2 separate regions of the Homo sapiens genome follow, and region 2 is linked to region 1. The links come from fine-mapping of genetic effects on gene expression. A gene starts in region 1. The other region holds a variant in brackets. All regions are shown on one strand. Distances are from middle to middle. Region 1 holds the start of BRPF3-AS1 (BRPF3 antisense RNA 1). Region 2 overlaps BRPF3 (bromodomain and PHD finger containing 3).

Region 1 (10,729 bases):
AAAAAACAAAAACAAACACTAGCAAAATTCTAAAATAAACCTGGCTTCCAGTGTTTTGCAATGTGATTGGGGGAAGAGGCAGGACCACTAAGAATTTTGATCTATGAAACATTTATTTCAACTAAAAGGATGGACTGACTAGAAATGTTTTCATGAAATTTTCTCTTAGCCCCCTTCTGCACCACCAGATTCCAGCAATTTGTACCAGATTTCCCCTCCCTCATCAGTCTAGGGAAGAACATGTGATGGTGATGATTGGGGCTCGGGGGAGCATCTTATTATTTAGTATGCAGAGATTCCCTTTAATTTCCGTTTTCAGTATGACACTTCATCGCTGTCTTCATTGGTTCCTGGTGGCCCCAAGTCTAGAACTTCTTTAGTTCAATTTCTTGAGATAGTAAATCTCACCTGCTGTTGTTTTCCCTCATTCTCTTTGTTCTTGTGGATTTCATTGTCTTGTGGATTTTTTTATCCTTTACTAACATTATTGAAGTTAGGGGAGGGAGTGGGGACCAATGCATGTTGTCAAGCCAGACATTATTTTAACCATGCAATCATTAAACTTTTCCAGAAATGTCCCACTCATTGTGGACTACTCTTTCTACAATGTACAATGTAAATTGTAAATTGAATTTAAATTTGCCATCATTTCATTGTTTTCTATTTGTTTCACCTTTACTATATTTCCTTTTCTTTCCTTGACTTCTTTTAGGTTGGTCGAATTTTTTATTCTTTTTTTACTCTGTACTAGTTTGTGAGTTACATCCTCATTTTTTCATTCTTTTAATGTTAATGATTAGTCTAAAAATTGCAACAGGTATGCTTTATCAACTTAATTGTGGTAAAATTTATGTAAAATAAAAGACAGCTACTCTGTACAGTTTAAGTTTTGGCAAATGTATATATACCTGTTTCTCCACCACTGCCATCAACTTACAGAATGTTTCTATCACTCCAAAAAGTTTCCTCATGCCCTTTATAGTCCCTCCTCCCCTTCACATCCAGGAAGCCACCAATCTGCTATCATTATAGAGCAGTTTGCATTTTCCAGAATTTCATATAAATGGAAACATGTATTTTATTATTATAGGTATTCTGGAGTAATCAAAAGCTAATATTAATCCTTTAACTTTACCTTTTTCTCAGAGTATTTTAATCCTGGAATTCTCTAAAATCCTCTAATTCACTGTTTCTCAACTTTAATATGCATATAAATTACTTATGGAAATCTTGTCAAAATGCAGGTTCTAGTTTAGTATGTGCTATTATTTTTGTGTATTTTCTCTCCCTTTAGTAAAATTATGCCAAGAAGATGGCTACTTTTAGGGTTGGTACTTCTGCTAAAATATGGAATTATATTTTATAGTGTCCTGGCTTCACTCACAGTTAAGAGTTTAGGATTTAATAGAAATCCTAATTAAAGGTTGAAAAGATAAGACATTAGATCAAGTTGAACAATTTATACTTGTCACATACTACTTGCTTTCATGCTTGCTTGGTTTAGCATTCCACTGAGTATATGGTAAAATGTTCTAGCTAGAATTCAAGTTCAGAAGATAATGCAAGCCACACTGGATAGCTAATTTAAACCATACCGTATCACACTCTCTTGCCTGACTAGAACTTAAAGCATGGAACTATTGAAGTCATTTCCCTGTTCCAAAAATCATCAGGGTCTCCTGCCCCTTCATGTCTAGCTCCCTACCCAACCAACAGTCTCCATGCTCTGACTTTACCTTACCAGCCTTCTCTCTCATATCCCTCATTTTTGGGTCAATGGGTAACCCACTGTTTCCTGAAACAATCTTATGGCATTCCATGTGTTAAAGAAAAGACAGCAGACCCCAAATGGAGTCATTCATGCTGAGAGGTTCCATGACACCAAACCAAAACCTGTATTTTACTGTAAGATCTGACTCTTCAAGAAATCAGGAGAGAGATGATAGTCAAATCCCATTAAACCAACAAGATTTCATTTACATTCCTATAAAGAAAAATAATCTTGAAAAGACCAATCTGCTATTTGCTCATTGTTCCTGATTTATTTCACTTCTTTCTGCCTATAAAACTCACCTACTTGTTTAGCTCATAGGAACTCCTTTCTATTTTGTAGACTGGATGTTGCCCAGTTCATAAACAGCTAATAAAGCCAATTGGATCTTTGGGACTCATTTGTTGAAATTTTATTCTTTGATACGTTCTTCCTCTTTGCTCATGCGGGTGGCTCAGCCTGGACCACACTCCCTCTACCATCTTTCTAGCTGACACACCTACCTGAGAGCTTTCAGGTAGAGCTCAGATAGCACTTTCTTCACAGAGCCTTCCCTCTTCTCCTAAACAGACGAGCTCACTCCCTCCTCCAAACTTTGGCACTTCGTTTGCATCTCTCTTGAAGTGCTTATATTGTAGCACGTTCCAGTTATAAATACCCTTGCTTTATACTGTGATTAGAATCTAAATGCCTTCAAGTCTGCAAGCATACTCTTTTCACCTTTGTGGCCTTTACAGCCATAAAATAGAACCTTACCAGCAGCTCACAAATAGTAATTGAATAAATATGTATTTCAGTGTGACCAAAAGAGGTTCCAGAGAACTTGAGCTGATTTCATCATTTCTTCAATCCTCAGGTTCCCACCTCCAATAGGAGCTCCCGAGCAACCCTTTGCCACCTCTTAATTTGCAATGATTGTACCAAACTGTGAGAACCTACAAAGTTTGAACTTAGATTCTTCTTCAATCTTCTCCTTTGTTCTTATGTCCAATCAGACAAAACAGTTGCTTTGTCATCTGATTTCTGATTTGACCTTTCCTTTTCCTCTTTCTCTAACACATTTTCCATCATTCTGCTTAATGCCTTTTTATTTTCATAATGCCTAATTACCTATAGTAAACTCTTCCAGGTTTACCGGATCTCCTGTTCTACTTTCTCCAATACATAAAGAGGATAACAGTAACATTTTATAGAGTTAGTAAGTTGATAAATAAGATATGGTGTGCATATTGGACCTAGTTTGTACATGTACCTACTACCCCATTGTACAATCTTCTCCTGCTCATGTCCTCTGGTTTTAGGAGTTGATACATGACAAGCAGCATGTCCCTCTGGCCACAGTTATTGGCTCAGGATGGCTGAGAAATTGCAAGATACAGTATGCTGATGACATAATTCGAGTCCTTTGACTCGATCTTGTCTATAGCTAGATGCACCCCTGGACTTTCTGGTTATGAGAGTTTATTTCCTTTATTAAACTCACTTAAGTTGGTTTTCTGCTAACTGCAACAAAGATCTTTAATAAATGGAGTATATAAAGCACTAAGCACAGTACCTTGTACATAAGTGTTAGGTATTATTTTTATTATCCCTGTCCCCTTGCCATACCTCCTACCCAATTCAATCTTTTTCTTATCATCTGCCCATACATACCAGCTAGGATAATTTCCGCATTATTCCCTGCATATTTTCCCTTTGCCTGGACTGTCCTGTCACCAACCCAATGTCACTTTACACTCTTTTCACCAGTTCACATCCATCATGATTTAGAACTTGGCTTAAAGAAGTCTCCCATTCTCCAAGAAGCCTTCTTTGAATAATGGTGGCTCCATACTCTTCACTGCCTTATCTATTTTTTCTTGTATGTGTTTTCTACTTATTTCTACCATTCTGGATTGCACACTACTCAAGGCAAGAAAAAATATATTCTATCTATACTTATGATCATTAGTCCCTTTCTAGGTTGAGATTTTGTCATTATTTTCCAAAGAACTTGTGCAGTATTAGACACACTCTAAGTGGTCAATGAATACGTTTTAGAAATACATAAATGGAATTAAATCTAGAGAGTGTGGTATGTTACTCTATTTAAGACCTGTTGTTAACCTAGCTAAACTTTTCCCATTTTCCAAGCAAACTTTACATTCTTAAACCATTTTAATTAGTGTAAAAGTATCGGCCGGGCGCGGTGGCTCACGCCTGTAATCCCAGCACTTTGGGAGGCCGAGGCGGGCGGATCACGAGGTCAGGAGATCGAGACCATCCCGGCTAAAACGGTGAAACCCCGTCTCTACTAAAAATACAAAAAATTAGCTGGGCGTAGTGGCGGGCGCCTGTAGTCCCAGCTACTTGGGAGGCTGAGGCAGGAGAATGGCTTGAACCCGGGAGGCGGAGCTTGCAGTGAGCCGAGATCCCGCCACTGCACTCCAGCCTGGGCGACAGAGCAAGACTCCGTCTCAAAAAAAAAAAAAAAAAAAAAAAAAGTATCACAATGATTCCAACCTCAAACATTCCTCCCAACTGTGGTTTCAGAATTCTTTTAGTCAAGTATCTAAGGAAGGAATATTCTATTAAAAATAATTTAACAATCAATCAAGGCCTATTTTTTTCCTTATCATCCACGTTATTAATCCAGTGGGTACTGCGTCTGACCCCTGAGAGGTTTCTTGGCCTGATAAACTAATGACAATAGTGAAGCATTAACAAAGATATCCTGAGATGCTGAAAAAAAGTATGATGGGGAAGTATGAAAGAAAGAGGTGGGGAAATGGTGATTTTTTTTTGTATTCATGTTTCTTTTAGTTTTAAATGGTAAAACCTTCTCCTATCCCAAATAAGTTGGTTTCTACTTACAGCTGGAAGGTTCTTAAAAACAACTATTTGGAATCAAAGATCCATGCCTCTGTTTGTTGAATTTAATTGCTGTATGGTTTATTGGAAAGGCCAGGGGTGGTGAATTTAAACCGTTTAAAATAGCAAACGATTAAAGTGAATTAAATTTAGTGCCTCTGAGATTTTTGATATATGTTCCAAATTTGTTTTTAATAACATAATTGTTCCATGTTACATTTAAGATTCCATCACAGGGAACTGGTTACGTGTGCAGTTATGCTTGTAGAAACCAATTCCAAATGTCAAAAATTAAAGTGAGGGCAACTGTAATGATATCATTAAAAAAGTAGAAGTTGAAAATGGAAGAGAAACACTTAGGTTGAATAAGGTCTTAATATGAAAGCTTTGAATAGAAAAACCTGAAAAAAATCACATGCATTAGGTTGACTTAAGGCCTTTTCAACAGCATTTAAATCGTTGACTTACAAGTAGAAACCAATGCATTTTCTCAAGGTATTTATTCATTCATTTTAGTGGAAAAAGATAGCTCCTGATCACGCAAATGGGAATTGTGCTAAATAAATTTTGAGAACATCCATCAAGAAATAAAAGTTACTAGTCATATGTATAAATGATTATTATATTTCATGTTTTAATAGTTTCTGTTAGTTTTCAGACTTTTTTTTTCTTAACTACAAGTACTGTAATTGCAATATTTTCTTGCCTCTGGGGCTTTCTCTTCCACAATTAATCATCTTTTTCTTCCACACCTTCCCTCCAAATGATTATTCCCCCTAGCTTCAGAACACTTGACATTAATTCATACTATTTCATCTTCACAGCTTTCAAAACATTGTCCTGCCCTTGCTTAGCTCCACGAGCCACCCCCCTTGCATTTAAAAAATTGGTTAACAGAAGCATTTTTGTACTATCTCTTTGCCAGAAGATGCTATTTACTTGGAAACAAATTAGCTTCCTTAATCAAACTTTTGAATTTGAAACTCTCTATATTTAAATTCCTTAGTATAACATCTATACTTCCAAAGTAGCAGTATGTTCACTTTAAACATTCAGAAAATTTGGATCCTAAGACTTTATCCTTCATCCTTCTGACTCTAGAATACATGTCCTTGATCATCAGAACCAAGAAAGAAATTGAGTCTCACCAGCTACACCACAAGTGCCAGCAGAGGAAACACTTTCAAACTGTCACTCACCTTCACATTTACAGGCAGCTTATCCATACGTCCTTTATAAACATCATTATGTATTGGTGCTTAAGACTTCAGTCACATGAGGTAAGCTTTCCAGTTTACAGGCAAAAGGGGGTGGCAATGGAGCCCTTTTCTTTATTTTTTTGTTTTTTTAGATCAAAACAAAAGCCAGTTTGGTCTGATGCTGCCATTTGTCAAGCATCTTTTAGAAAGCCGCCTAATGCATTAAATTAACCAAGTCAGGTTTAAAGTGTTTCCCATGCCCACAGTGACAGACGAGTTACCAGGCATGCTTAAGCAGACTGTCAAACTTTTGTTTACTCCTTTTAAACGGAAAGTCAGATTTTTTTTTTTTTTTTTTAAAAGATGTGTGGTGCGGAACAAGACGCTCACCTGTACACAACAAAGGCAGGTCTTTCCCGGCTGTCCTCACTGGGGGAGGGGATGGACAATCGCTAGACCTTTGTCCTCAGGTCCTGGGCATGGGGGTTAGGGGAGACGCGACTTTCTGGGAGTCGTGCAGGCACCTGCAGTCAAGAAACTACATATTGGTTTTGACCTCAATGACTGCCCTGGCTTAACCTTTGGAGAGGCCCTTTAGTTCGGGGAGGGGGCTTGCTGCTCCAAACCGTAGCCACGTCACCCACAAGGACTGGGGAGGAAATGACTGACCGCTCAAGAGTCAGGGACCCCTGTCTCTCCCAACTAGACCCGAACGTCCACAGCCCTCTTATCGGGCTCGCCCCGTGGCGGGCAGGGCCGTGGTGCGCAGGGATCGCGGCGGGCGCAGACCCGGTCTCTTGCTCGGTGTCCCCGCCGCGCCCGCACCGCCACCGTGAGGCCGAGCCGGGGATGGTGCCCCGTGGCGGCGGCGGCGGCGCCTCCGCGCTCCTCTCCGCACCGCCCCGGCCGCCGCCGCGCCAGGCACGGGCGGGGGGATTTTTTTCCCGTTTCCCCCTCTTTCGCGCTCTCGCTCCTGTTCAGCGGGAGAGCCCGCAGAGTCAGGGAGGGAGCGAGGGAAGGGGTGGAGGTGGCGGGGGGAGGCCGGAGGGGCGGATCCTGCCTGGGGGCTGATCCCTCCCTCCCCTCGGCCGGGCTCCGTGGCGGCAGCGGCAGCAGCGGCGGCTCCATTCCCCCTCCTCCCCCGGGAGCGGCGGCGGCGGCCGGGCCGGGGCCCCAGCGCGGGCCGGGAGGGGGCACGGCGGAGGCCACGGAGGCAGGCGCGGGAGAAGACCGCGCTCCGCTTCCCGGGCCGCGCCGACCTGCTCGGCGGCCTGCCCGCCCGCGCCCAGGGGCCCCGAACGGTGGGGCCGGGCAGGCGGCTGAGGTAATGGGGGCGGCAGCGGGGCCGGACAGAGCGGGGGCGGGGGCATCGGGGCCTTCGGGGACCAGGGACTGCACGGGGGGAAACCGGAGAAGCGGGGGGCTTTCCGAGCAGGGCGGGGGCGGTGCGAAAGCTCTCTCCTGGAGCGAGGGCGGCGGCAGGGAAGGAGAAGGCGGGTGAGCGGGGGAGCTGAGAAGCGAGGACCCCCTCCCGCAGCCGCCATCTTGTCTCCCCCCCCAGCCCTGGATTCCGAGCCGCTAAGCCCCGCCCCCGCCACGCCTTCCAATTGGCCTGGCCAGACGAGAGTCCCGCCCCTTGAGCGGCCCTAGGTCCCCTGGGTCCCTCTGACGGGCAGGTGACGCAGCCAATGGGTTCTCGCCTCTCCGCCCCGCTCATTCGCTGGCGCTCGCTTTCTCTGTCTGAGGGTCGGACTCCACGTCAGGCTGTCTCTGGTGCGCTCGCCCCTCCCCTCTGAGGAGATGTTATTTCCCTCCTTTCTTCTCCGAGGGGTCAAGATTCTTCTGGAAGAGGTGCCCCCTTAAAGGAGCAGGAGCCTTGGCTGGGGTCCTCCTTGTCTCCTGAGTATCTTGTGTGAGGTGCAGGGGATACAGTCTAATTGCAGAAGCTCCTCATTCTTCGGGGACCTGGATGGGGTGGGTGAGCGAGGGGTCAGGGGGTGCCGAGGGGAAATCTGGGGGGGCGGGGGTTGTTGGAGATATTTTGGAGGTGTGTATGTGGGAAGGGCTGTGTAGGTTGAGAAACTCCCGCCAAAAAACTCGTCTAGACTGTAAGCTCCTTGTGGGCGAAACTCTTTTCATTTCCCTCATCAGCAGTCCCTTCCCCCTCTAGAGTTTCTCCCCGGTGTCTGGAGGCGTGGGTGGGACAAAACACGTCTGTGTAGAGTCTTGCATGGTCGAGAGATGCTTGAGCAGCCGAGGAGGTGGCAGGTGGGGAAGGAGAAGATGGAGCGGCTTTCATGAAAGTGGGCGCCGCACCGCCTGTCTGCGCTGTTTGGGGTCGGTGTGGAGGCAGATGTTCTCACCTCTTCTAGGGCCTCGGTGCCTTTGGAGGGGTGGGTGATGAAGCAGGTCTGTTGGCCCTGTCTGCCCCCAGGGACTTGGCATTTGTAAGGAATCCAGTAGCCAAGGGCCTCTGGAACCCGGACAGAATTGCTGCGATGATTCTGTTTCCTTTGGCTCCAAATGGGGTGTGTGCCAGCCCGCCTGGCACTGCTCCTCAGCCAAATTGGTTTTTTGTTTGTTTCAGTCACACTTTGGGATTGGAAGGCCTTTCAAGTAAAGATGTTAATAATACCTTATTAACAAGTAGCACCTAGAGAGCTAGATTGTGTTACCCTCATTTTACTGATGGAGTATGGAGGCATAGAGAGCTTAAGGGACTTTCTCTAGGTCACAGAGGGCCAAGATTAGAACCTAGATTGCCCCAGAGCCTCGTTTTGTACCAGACCATAGCACCTCTGTGGTGTTCTTAATTCCCACTGAGAGGAATTGAGCATCGGAAGACCTGGGTTCAAATTGTAGCGTTATCACTTACTAGCTTTACGTTGAGTGACATCTTTCTGAGCTTCTGTGTAGATGATAATAGCTACACCATCTCCTAAGGTAGTTGTGAGAAATATTAAAAGTAAGAGGGCTTTGTAGTTTGGAAAAAGTGCTTTTATTATCACCGTCTCTACTTTATATAGATGGTAGACCCTGCAACCAAGGCGATGAATTGTTTTTCTCTTTGAAATCTTCTCTTTGTTCATATCCTTCCAAGTCTGCCCACACCATGGGGCCCTGTATCCCCAAAGGTCTCTCCTGGTGGTGACAGCCTTGGTAACTGCCTACCGCAGCTCCTTATGAGCTTGTCATCCAGAGAATGATGGGGGAAACTAGGACTTTCTCTTGGCTGTACAAGGATAGACTAGATATGAGTGTTCTGGGAGAGACTTTTGAGGTAACAGAATGCATTGAGAGTTTACCTCAGATACTGCCCAGATCATCTTGGCCTTCGGTCGAATGAAGGTCCTAGACAGGCCACTATAACTTCAGAGATCTCTTGGAGCCACTCTCAGAGCTTCTAGGGTTTGTTTCTGCCTGGAAATGTACTAGTTGGTGTATCCTGGATCAGGGGTTCCCAACCCCCAGGCCGCAGACTGTGGCCTGTTAAGAACCAGGCCATACAGCAAGAGGTGAGTGGCGGGCAAGCGAGCATTACCACCTGAGCTCTGCCTCCTGTCAGATCAGCGGCTGCTTTGGATTCTCATAGGAGCGCGAACCCTACTGTGAACTGCGCATGTGAGGGATCTAGGTTGCATGCTCCTTATGAGAATCTGACTAATGCCTGATGATCTGAGGTGGAACAGTGTTCACCACCCACCCTCATCTGTGGAAAAATTGTCTTCCACGAAACCAGTCCCTGGTGCCAAAAAGGCTGGGGACTGCTGTCCTGGATGGTGTCTTTTGTAGGGAATACCCTGCATACTGTAGTTTGAAGCCCTTAGACCATGTATCATAGATATTTCAGATGCCTTCACCCCTTCACCTCTAGGCAGGGTCAAGGAGTAGGGTTTCTGATCGTGGTAAGAGGTATTGGGAGAAGACTCTAGTGACTTTTGATCCTCTGATGGGGCCCATTGTTCACGTACAGAGCTTGACAGTGGATGCTTTTCTTGTTTTCTTTTCTAAACCGTTAACTACATGTGTTTTCCATAGTTAGCTGTCGCCCAGCTTTATGTACATCATTAGAACATTAGATCTTTCCCCATGTTACACTGTAATAATCTGTTTACTTTTCTGTCTTTTGAGTTAGACAGGGCTCCTTGAGGGCAGGGATCATGTGTGTTTGATTTCTTCTTTCATTCAACTAATACTTATTGAGTGGTTACTTAGGAGCTAAGCACTGCTCCAGGAACTGGGGATGCAGCAGTGAACAAGACAAACAAAAATTCTTCCCCTCATGGAGCTTATATTCTAGTGGAAGGAAGGAAACAATAAACATAGTAGTAGGTAAATTATGTAGCATGGTATAAGATGATGAATGTTAAAGGGAAAAATAAAGCAGAATGAAAGGTAGATTGCTGGTGGAGGAAAAGGATTTGCAATTTTAGATAAAGTGGTCAGAGAAGGTCTCACTGAGAAGTGTTGTTCACTTGAAGAAATGAAAGACTCAAAGGAAGTGAAGGAGCAAGCCATGTGGATGCCTGAGGGGCAAGTTGTTCAGACAGAGGGAAAAGCCAGTCCTCTTGGTGGATGCTTGATCATATGGGAGGATGAATGGGTGCATAAGGGCATCCAACTCATAGTCTCCTGGCCTTCTCTCCTTAGGCCTGTCCCCTCAGTTCCCAGGTGCCATGAGGAAGCCTCGTCGGAAGTCCCGGCAGAATGCCGAGGGCCGGCGTTCCCCGTCCCCCTACAGTCTCAAGTGCTCACCCACCCGGGAGACCCTGACATATGCCCAGGCCCAGCGGATTGTCGAGGTAGACATTGATGGACGCCTGCATCGTATCAGCATCTATGACCCACTCAAAATCATTACTGAAGATGAGCTAACTGCCCAGGATATCACCGAATGCAATAGTAACAA
Region 2 (10,729 bases), 41 kb after region 1:
CCTTGGGTGTGGAAGACACCGTGGACAAGCTCAAGATGCTGGAAGGCCGCAAGACCAGCATCCGCAAGTCAGTGCAGGTGGCCTATGACCGTGCGATGATCCACCTGAGCAGAGTCCGGGGGCCCCACTCCTTCGTCACTTCCAGCTACCTGTAAGGGCAGGGCTGGGCCTGCATCCGCTTGCCCTGCCTCCATCCCGCAGGGCACAGAGAAGCCTCTTCTGCCCCTGCCAGATGTATGGCCGGCAGCTTCCCCCTCTCATGGTAGGCCAGGGACTGGGCTTTCTCCCCACTAAGGGCAAGGCCCCAGTTTTGACCAATCGCATGGTTCTCCTGGCAGGCCTGCTGTGTGCCAAAAACTCCCACCCAAGGTCCCTCAGGGGATATTTCACTGAAGAACCAGTTAGAAGTAGAAACAGCTGTGGGGCTTGGGCCCAGCTTAGGAGATTGCCCAGATGGCAAGAGGTCCTGGGCTCCTTCTTGAGGGGCTGCCTGGCCCGCTCCATCCTACTCCCACTAACTACACCTCAGGGCGGGTGAGGTTCCGACACTGATCCCAGAGATGCCGTGGATACGCCAGGGTCCCAGGGGGAATCTCCCCAAGCTCACACTCTCTCCCGCTTATCGCCTATTCTCACACCTCTTCTCGGTCCCATCTTCTGCACCCATTGCCCAGTCTTGCTTTCTCTTTCCCATATTCCTTTTCTTTTTCTCTTGTGCCAAACTGACAGAAACCGTCACCACACTGGTCTTTTTCTTTAATGTCTCATTCCCCTTGAGGCCAGCTGCTATGCCAGGTGGTGTCTCTGCCAGGCTCCTCAGGCCCAGACAGAGGCCAGCCCACAACCTATGACCCCCTCCCCCAGGACACCACCTCCCACCCACAGACCTTCCCTTTAGCTGTTGACACAACTTCCCAGCTCTGCAAGTGTGCCCCCTGGATCAAGGCGGGTCCCCTCTTGTTTTTTTCTTTGCTGCCACGAGGTGGTCCAAGCCTTCAGGGTGGGCTCCTATCAGGCTGGGTGTGCGAGTGTCCATCTGTCCACATGGATGTCGAGGGTGGTTTGTGTGGAGCTGTGCTCGTCAGCTGGGTCTGCCCTCTTCCCCCTTTTCTCCTTCTTCTCTCCTCATGGACTTTTTCTGCAATTGCAGTCTTAAGCTTCACTCTCCACCACCTGGATGGCATGGCGCCTGCCACCAAACATCTTCCTGGCCTGCGCTCTGCCCTGCCCTGCCTAGCCTCTGCTACTCCCACTTCCCAACTCCAGGGAATGCATTACTTTTATTTCAAACCCTCTGCCTCCTTCCTTCTTTCTCTTCAACCCCCTCCCCACCTTCACCTTCTCAAAAATGGAAGGAAAAAAAAACTGTGAATGGGGAATGCTGACTGACAAACCAACACAACTTTCAGAGGCTTCAGTGTCTGTTCTCTGGACATTTCTTTTCACCTCCTGAGCACCAAAGTCGCAGGGCCAGTTGCAGGCCGCTGATTGCCATGTTGATTTTTAACCTGATATTCTTTTTAATTGTTTTAAATTTTTCATAGGGGAGTTTTGGACAAAACAGTCACTGGGGAGATCACTGCCATTTTTACACACTTGACTTTTTAAAAATACAACCAACCAACCACCACAACTTCTTATACATTTGGGACATGAGCCAGAGTTTAAAAGGGAACCAACAAAACACTATAACTTAAAAGGATGGGGTTTTGGATTTTGTATAATAATAAAAACAATACAGCATATGGCTAGGGAAGGACATGGTGTATATAATTGTAAAATACTGTTCTAAATTATTCAGGCCTATAGTTTCCATTACTGGAGTCCTCCATTGTGTGGCCACACAGTGTCGTTGATTTAAAGGAGCCAGTGCTTCCCCTCTCCCCAGGTAGTTGGTCAGCTGTGGACTCTGTGACCTTTGTCTAAACCTGTGTTGTAAGATCTTGGGACTTCCTCTCTTTCTATGTCTATCTCTTCCCCCCAACACTTTCTCTTCTTAGTCTCTCTCTTTATTTTTCAATCTCTGAATATTTTAGTCTCTCTCTGAGTCTCATTTTTTAAAATGCTCTTTTAGAACGGGAAACGGCTCAGATCCTGCTGTGGCACGGGGCCTATGTGTCTCTGTCGCGTCTGCTGTGAAGCACATGATGCTCTATTTATTGTAGAGAGTGACTTTATTTGCTTTCTAGAATTGTTTATAACAGATGGTATAAGAGAGGTAATAAACAGAGAAAAATCTATGCTTGTAAAGAATACAAAAGTTAATTTTACCTACTATAATATGACTGTCTGAAACTTATTTTCTCTCTGAGAAATAAATGTTCTAATGGGCAGTAGTTGCTGTGTTGTGTTTAATCAGTAGGGGCCTACCCCTGTCTTCCCATTCCCTACAGCCTCCTCCTCAACAGGCCAGGACCATTAAGAAAGTTTCCTAGCTAGCGAGGGCTGTATCTTTCTTTTTTTTTTTTTCTTTTGAGACAGCGTCTCTGTTGCCCAGGCTGGAGTGTAGTGGCATGATCATAGCTCACTGCAGCCTCGATTTCCTGGGCTCAAGAGATCCTCCTACCTCATCCTCCCCAGTAGCTGGGACTACAGGCACGTGCCACCATGGCCAGCTGTTTTTTTGTTGTTGTTGCCCAGGCTGGCCTCAAACTCCTGGACTCAAGCAATCCTCCCGCCTTGGCCTCCCAAAGTGCTAGGATTACAAGTGGGAGCCACCATGCCCAGCTTCTGTCTATCTCTTGGACCCCTAGGAGCAGTGTGAGGATGTTCTCTGACTTTGCTTCCCTCCCGGACAGCGCTGGCACCTTCTGGGAGCTGTTGGAAGGTCCATCCTACCTTCCCATGCCTCGCCTTCCCTGTGGCCATGTTCCTTTAGGAGCCTCTGCTCCTCATTCAGAAGGAGAGTGACCCTTTGGACACACCTGACTTACCAAGCTTGCTGAACTTGAGACTCAAGGATGCTCACACCTCTTATGTCACTGCTGCTGTTTTAATTCTGTAGATGGGTAGCTGGGACACACACAGGGGAATATAGGCCTCACTCCTCTTAAAGCTGGAAGGCATCCTTAAGCCTACCTGGTCTTCATTTTACAGACAAGGAAACAGACCAGCAAAATTAAAAGACCAAGGTCAGCCAACTAAGAAACTGTGGCATAATTCTGAGACAAGGATCTGGCCAAGGCTTTGTTTATGGGCTCCACAGCATTTCAAGACTCCACTGGCCTATTCTGTATCGTGTTCCTCTCTCAGTGGCTGTGGCTCTGGCATTTCTGGATAGGAATGTCCTGAAGAGCAGAAGCAGAGGGGAGTTCCCAGAGACAAACTGCTTGGTTGCTGGGCATAGAATAGCTTTTCCCCTGTCCCTACTCCTATCCCATTCTGGTCCTACCTGGCTCCTATGCTTGTCTCGGTGTGGCTGAGGACTCGGGTCTCTTGATCACTTCCTCCACGGGGCCTTTGACAGCCTTGTCATTGAAGTCAAAAAAGTGTCAAAGTTCTCATTTTGGCCTAACACTGACAAAGTACTGCCAATGTGCTGATAATCCTTGTATTACGTGTTGGGGCTGCAAAGACACACACCCCTGGTCTCAAGACACTCACAACCTGATTTATAAGATACATCTCACATAACGCCGCATAAGGCCAGTGTGAGGGTCCCAGATATGTGGAGGCGTTTGGGAGAGACATGTTTGGTTGGGGAGTAATGAAAGCCTTCAGAAGCAGCAATTAATTCAAGCCTTGACAAATGGGGTTAGGAAAGACTTTATTTATGAATTGTAAGTTGAATTACAAAGACGTTTGCAAAATATTTACAAAATATTTAGGGTGAAATTACAAGCTCATTCTATAAACCATTTTAGAAATAAAAGTGGCCAGATGGGTAGGATTTTAGCAGGCGAGGCTAAGAAGAGGAGACAAAGTCATGGCTCAGAAAGAGATTGTGCATATTCCAGCTCCAGTGACTAGCTGACCTCCCACGTGACTGGAACCCACCGAGGTGGCGAGCAGTATATCGGGCTTAAAAGCCCTGTCACTGTCACTCACTCTGTGACCCTGGGCCTCTCTGAGACTGACGTAATAAAGGATCCCAAAGACAGGGCAAGGTGGGTGCCATTCATATATGGCAGGTAGCAGCATCCATTGAAAGATTTGAACAGGGCAGAGACTTGATTGGAGCTTGGCAACTAACTAAACATCAAAGTTAAAAAGCAAGAGTGTTAAGACAGGATGCTGGGTGGCTGCTGGAGGGATCGCTGTGGGTTTTGAAGGGAGGAGAAAGTGTAGGTTTTTTGATGAGTTTGTGTTGTCTATGGGACATCTAAGAAAAACCTCCAGCAAACAGATGGGAGTTGAGCCCAGAATTCAGGAGAAAGATGGGAGCAGATGACAGAGATGTGGGCACAGTGGAGCCCACCTAGGCAGTTAGAAGAATGGCCAAGGACAGCAAGGAAGGCGAAGGACAGACATGAGGAAAGCCCCTTACACTTAGAGTCTGGGGTTGGGGGAAAGGGGGAGACAGCACCTTTTGAGGGGTCTGTTCTCCAGGGAGGGCCTCACAGGGAATGTCAAGCCCTCATGCCACAGATGGAGGAGAAAGGCAGGTCAGATGTGCTTAGCATCACAAGGCAGGAAAAGGCAGGGCTGGACCAGAACTCAGCACCCACTCAGCCCTTTCTGCTCTCCACGGACTTATATATTACCCAAAGTAGGCAAAAGTGTCCTTAATAAATTTTATCAATGATGTGACTGAAATTCATGAACTCAAGTCTAAAATGATACTGTAATATTGGGACATGTGTTGGAGACACTCTGACTCTCGGAATAGAGAATCCCATTCTCCTAACAAGTTAAAAAATATCATTGAAAGCATTTGCCAAAATCCCTTGTCAGCTTGGCTGCTTCCATTAATATATTAGATGCCATTAGCACCTGAGTGTGAATGTGCCAGTGCGTCAGATGGGCTCTCCTGACCTGGCTAGGCTCTGAGTTTCACTTTTAGAGAAGAGGTGGGGCTAGTGGCAAGACTGCCAGGCTCGGAGTAGTGCTGAAGGAGAGAGGGAGGGTGTGGGCCTTGACTACCCTGAGTCTGCAGGCCTCCCACAGTGTCTGCAGTCGGGCAATGAGTGTGCAGGTCTCTGGTCCTGCTGGCTGCAGCCTTCTGGCCTCTACTGAAGCTGGGATGAGGGAAGGAGGTCTTTGGAGGAGGGAAGTGGTTTCTCCAAAAGGTGGGGCAGAAGTTTCTTACTCTGTGATGAGGAAGAAGGGCCAGGGAGATACGTGCTGGGCTAGAGCTGGAGAGGAGTGCTGGATCCACCCTGGTGATACGAGAGAAGGGCAGGGAAGTGCTGGGTAGAGAAGAATGGGGTCCCTGGTGAGGGCTTCACCCTCAGGCCTGGTCCACGGACCTAGGTGAGGACAGGCACCCTTGTTTTTGAGCCCAAATGTTGCATTTTCCAAGACCACTCTGGCCCGCCA[C/T]GCCCCTGATCCTGGGCCCGTAAAAACCCCGAGACCCTAGCGGGCACACACACACAGCCGGCTGGAAGTCCAGAGAAGCAGAACACACCGAAAGGCACCAACAGATGCCGACAGGCTATCGACGACGCCACGATGACGTGAAATTTGGCACAGCGCGGTCGGAGTCCAGCTGCCGGGCAGCCCAATTCCAGGTGAAGACCACCTTCCCACTCCATCCTCCTTCTGGCCTCCCCATTCACCTCACTGAGAGCTACCTCCACTCAATAAAACCTTGCACCCATCCTCCAAGCCCACATGTGATCCTATTTTTCTGGTACACCAAGGCAAGAACCCAGGATACAGAAAGCCCTCTGTCCTTGTGATAAGGCAGAGGGCCTAATTAAGCTGATTAACACAAGCTGTCTGCGGATGGCTAAACTAGAAGAGCATAATGTAACACACACCCACTGGGGCTTGGGGAGCTGTAAACACTCAAACCTTAGACGCTGCAGTGGGGTCGGAGCCCACACTCCCCATGACCTGCCTGTCTGCATGCTCCCGCTAGGGGTTTGAGCTATGGGGTACCAAAGAAGTGAGCCACACCCCCATTGCATGCCCAGCGAGGGGGATAAGAGAACTTTTCCCATTTCACTGGCACCTGGGGTGACCTTCTGTCTGCCCTTTCCCTTCGAGGGTGGCAGAAGGTAATTGGGGATAGACGAAAAACGTCCGTGTGTGTGTGTGTGTGTGTGTGTGTACATATACATAAGTATTCTCTTCAACTTTAATAGGGCCAGGACTCACGGGCTACATGCAGTCAAACACTCTACTACTGAGCTCTACCCCCATCACAGGCTACATAGAGTCAAAAAAGCTAGTTGTCCCCAAATTTCAGAAGGGCCGTGGTGCTGTTTCTGAGAACATTTTATGTCCTTTGCTTGACACCTGTAAGGCTGGTTGGAAGAGGGTGGATTCAGTTGAACTCCTGAAGCCGTGTCTCAATCCCTTCCTCTTCCTTTCTGCCTAGTATTCGTCCGTTTGGGGGATAGAGAAGCCATACTGGGGATGCGACGTTGATGGTTCCTCATGGGCAGGGAGTATCACATAAGGGTCCAGGGGTGGGCTCCTTCCCTTCAGCTTCACAGTCCAGAGTGACGCCTGAAGGAGATTTTATCTAAGCTGGTCAGGAAAGATTATAAAATCCGTGGGGGTTTTTTGTATGTAATATGGGAAAATTTTTAAGTGCAAAGAAATTAAGAACTACCCTTTTTCTGACCACACAGAAACTACCATTTTAATGTAATTCCTTATAGTCTCTTGTTTTTTCTAGGTAGAGCATGTATTTTAGTTTCTTGTACTAGGTAGTTGAGTAGTCTGTTACCTCTCTGACATCACTGCGGAAATTCATGGTACGACTGGGATGCAAGTCCTCCCCACGCCTCCTCAGCCTAAGTCTGGCTTTTTCTCACTTGCTGTTGTTCATGGACTGGCCTAAACCAAGCATTGCCTGTTAGTTCCTCTGTTTTGTTAAAATACTGATAGTCTCCATAGCATTTGAAATTAGATGGGAGCTATATATCTTCCTCCCAACAACTTTGCTCTCTTGGGTAAATTTCCATGGAATTCAGTCCTAGACCAAATTCTGCCCCATGTACAAACATCTAATGAGTGAGGAAGCCACCATATGGCCATATAATTCTCCTCTTGATTGAGAAGTTCCCACCTCTGCTTTTGGGTACAGCCACCAGCATCGGGAACGAAGATCACTCCACAGCAGATACAACATGCTTCCGAGGTCAGGACCAGTTAGTGGAGTAGTCAGGTCAGGAGCAGGAGGAACAGACCCCGAAGTTTGAGTATTTTCATATTTTAGATATAGTTTTACATACAGTAACTCTGGGACACAAATCTTAAGATTAATCTCTATGAGTGTTTATATGTGTACCCACCCATGAAATTGTGATCCAAATCAAAATACAGAATGTTTCCAGTGCCCTAGAAGGTTCCTCATGACCCTGTCCAGTCAGGACCCCTGCTGCAAGTGTAACTACCATCCAGACTTCCATTGCTGTGGGTTAGTGTTGCTTGTTCTTGGACTTCACATAAATGGAATGACACAGCTTGCGCTCTTTTGTGTCTGGCTTCTTTCATTTAACATTGTGGCTCTGAGCTCCACCCTGTTTTGCATGTAGCTATAGTTTGCTTTTTGTTGTTGCTGAGTAATATTCCATCATCCAAACACACCACAGTTTGGGTATCCATTCTCCTGCTGATGGGCACTGGGTTATTTCTAGTTTAGGGCTGTTATAAATAACACTGCTGTGAACATTCTTGTACATGTCATTTGATGGACATAAGTGCTTGTATGTCCCAGGAGTGGAATTGCTAGGTCACGGGGCAGATATATGTTTAGCTTTAGTGGATTCTGCCAGTTTCCCATTTGGTGTTCAATTTATATCCCCTCCTGTATGAGTCTGATCTTGCACAGCTCCCCACCTGTATTAGTCTGATCTCGCACAGCTATAAAGAAATACCTGAGACTTGGTAATTTATAAAGAAAAGAGGTTTAATTGGCTCACGGTTCTGCAGACTGTATAGGAAGCATGGCTGGGGAGGCCTCAGGAAACATAGAATCATGGCGGAAGGGGAAGGCGAAGCAGGCACATCTTACATGGCCAAAGCAGGAGGAAGGGAGCAAAGTGGGAGGTGCTACACACTTTAAAATAACCAGATCTGAGAACTCACTATCGTGAGAACAGTAAGGGGGAAATCTGCCCCCATGATCCAGTCACCTCCCACCCGGCCCCTCCTCTAACACTGGGAATTAAAATTCAATATGAGATTTGGGTGGGGACACATATCCAAGCCGTATCAGAGTATAGTTGCTTCACATCTGTGCCAACACACAGTACTGCTGGTCCATGATGTTTGCTCCAGACCTGCTTGTTGAATGACTTCCATTAAGCTCCACTGTGCAGCCAGGCTTCTGTTATCCTTTACAGCACTTTCTGGCTTTAGAGGGAGAATTATGAACTGCCAAGGTGCTTTTCAACTGGGGAACCCTGATTGAGAGGATGGTGAGGGGGGAGAGCTCCCTGGAGTGGATTTGCTGCTGATCCTGTCCTGGACTCCAGGGCATGTATGCACCTGGCTGTGCAGCCCAGGCCTCTCTTGGCACCCACTTCTGTACTATGGTGCCACCCAGATCCCTGCATGGGCTGTTTGGGAGATAGGGTCACACTGGGCAGTCCTTTTTAGTTCAGAGTAACACTACCTTTCCCACCTCATCCTCCTCATCACTGTCATTGGGCTCTGAGGGACCCACTTTTGCTCGAGGATTGCTTTTTTACTTTCTGTTTTTGTTTTCTTGAGATAGGGTCTCACTCTGTTGCCCAGGCTGGAGTGCAGTGGCTCGATCACAGCTCACTGCAATCTCTGCCTCCTGGGGCTCAAGCGATTCTCCCCCCTCAGCCTCCCAAATAGCTGGGACCATAGGTGTGTGCACCACCATGCCCGACTAGACTAATTTTGGTATTTTTTGTAGAGATGGGGTTTCGCCATGTTGCTCAGGCTGGTCACAAACTCCTGGGCTCAAGGGATCCGCTGGCCTTGGCTTCCCAAAGTGCTGGGATTATAGGCGTGAGCCACTGTGCCCGGTCTGAGGGACCCACTTTTGAATACAGACCCCAGCCTGTGTCCTGAGGTGTTATGGTTACCGGTGGGGCAGAAGGGACCCCTGCATATTGCACCCATTTTGTCCTTGTCCACTGGCTGTTGCCCAAAATTCTACCCTTAGTGCTTTATGCTTTTACCTCTCAAGGGCATGATACTTAGGGACTTGGCAGTGACCCTGGTTAGAGTGGGCCTGTTTTCCTTTAAATGACCGGTATCCCAGTGTGAACAAAGGATATGTGAGCAGGTTTTGATAAGGCAATACAGCAAGGACACTGAGTCCTTGAGGGGAAGGTTTAAAAGGAGATGAAAAGGGCCTACTTGCTGTTGGCTGACCTTGGTGCCACAGACGCACATTTCAGAGTCATCAAGGATGAAGGCTCAGAAGACTCTGAAGCAACTTCAAAGGAATCGCTTGGATCACAGGTGGGGTGAAGGTTGGAGATAAGAAGGCAGGGCCAGGGAAAGAGACCCAAGGGAGCCTCGTTTGGAAGCAAAGCTCTGGAAACAAAAGACTGCAGAGCCAGGGTCAACCTGGGCAACTGTTTGAAGCCAGCCCCGTCCTCAGGTGCAAGAAAGAGCATTCTCTGGGTCTAAGCCTGAGTTGTGCGCGGAGGACACAGGCTTTCCTGGGCAGGACTGCAGGCTTCTGGCTCCACTCGTGCCTGTGGCACACACAGGTTTTGATAGCCAGAGCCTGGCCAGTCCTCCTCTTTCTGCTCCCTGTCCCTCCTGGGACCAGGACTTGGCCTCTCCCCTCCACCCTCCCTTCTCTTCCTCCTTCCCTTCTTTGTCTCCTTCTCCTTAAATTTTGTGATTTTTAATTTCAATTGATTTATTGCCCCTCCTTGTCCCCAGCCTCCCAGTTCTCCTCCCCAGAGGAAACCAGTTTCACCAGTTGCATGTGTAAGTTTCCAGAGACACTTTAATCTATGCACATGAGTGATGTGTGTGTCCACTTTTTCTATACAAATGGTAGCATACTTTTTATAGTGTTCTAGGCCTCATTTAAAATTTTAAAATTAAATATTGAGTAGATACAAAAATAGTAGTTATAGAATATATATACATTTTAAAGACACCCACAATACAATAGACCAGTATGGGTACCCACGCCCTGTTTTAGACAAAGAAGCTGGGCTTTTGAAACCATGTGCCTCTCTCCAGCCCCACCCTCCTCTTCCCCTAAATACTATCATGAATTTTACGCTTATCCTGCCCTTTTTGTCTTTTTATAATCCTACTACTTGTTTATAATAGATTATGATAAATATACTATATTTTTATACTAAGATAAATGTAATAAACATTATATATAACAAGACATAAATATATATAATAATTGAATATGGTATACTACCTTTTTGGGATTATGAATAGAATAGTTTTCTATGGCTGGCTTTTGTCCCACCCATAATTATAGTTCTGAAGTTCAGTGTACTGATACGCATGTCCGGAGTTAGTTCATTTTCACTCTTGTATAGAATTCCATTGCATGGAGATAGTATGATTATTTTCATTGGACTATTTTATTTATTAATAATAATTATTATTGTTTTCTAATTTAATTTTATTTTTTGAGACAGGGTCTCATTCTGTT

The links. PIP is the estimated chance that this variant, and not a neighbour inherited with it, causes the effect.
Region 2: its variant is fine-mapped to the expression of BRPF3-AS1 in testis (GTEx, PIP above 0.99).

The regions. Positions count from the first base shown.
Region 1 is chr6:36,189,827-36,200,555 of GRCh38, forward strand. BRPF3-AS1 (BRPF3 antisense RNA 1) reads right to left here and starts at 7,377. Exons shown (of 3, transcript NR_187147.1): 1 at 6,211-7,377. BRPF3 (bromodomain and PHD finger containing 3) reads left to right here and starts at 6,918. Exons shown (of 13, transcript NM_015695.3): 1 at 6,918-7,144; 2 at 10,471-10,729. The coding sequence starts at 10,497. RefSeq lists a silencer at 6,533-7,272 and an enhancer at 7,623-7,672.
Region 2 is chr6:36,230,455-36,241,183 of GRCh38, forward strand. BRPF3 (bromodomain and PHD finger containing 3) reads left to right here. Exons shown (of 13, transcript NM_015695.3): 13 at 1-2,336. The coding sequence ends at 155. Among named protein-coding and RNA genes, the nearest start is that of PNPLA1, 34 kb to the right of the region's middle. RefSeq lists an enhancer at 4,996-5,541 and a silencer at 9,378-9,672. The variant C/T (reference allele first, on the strand shown) is at 5,479.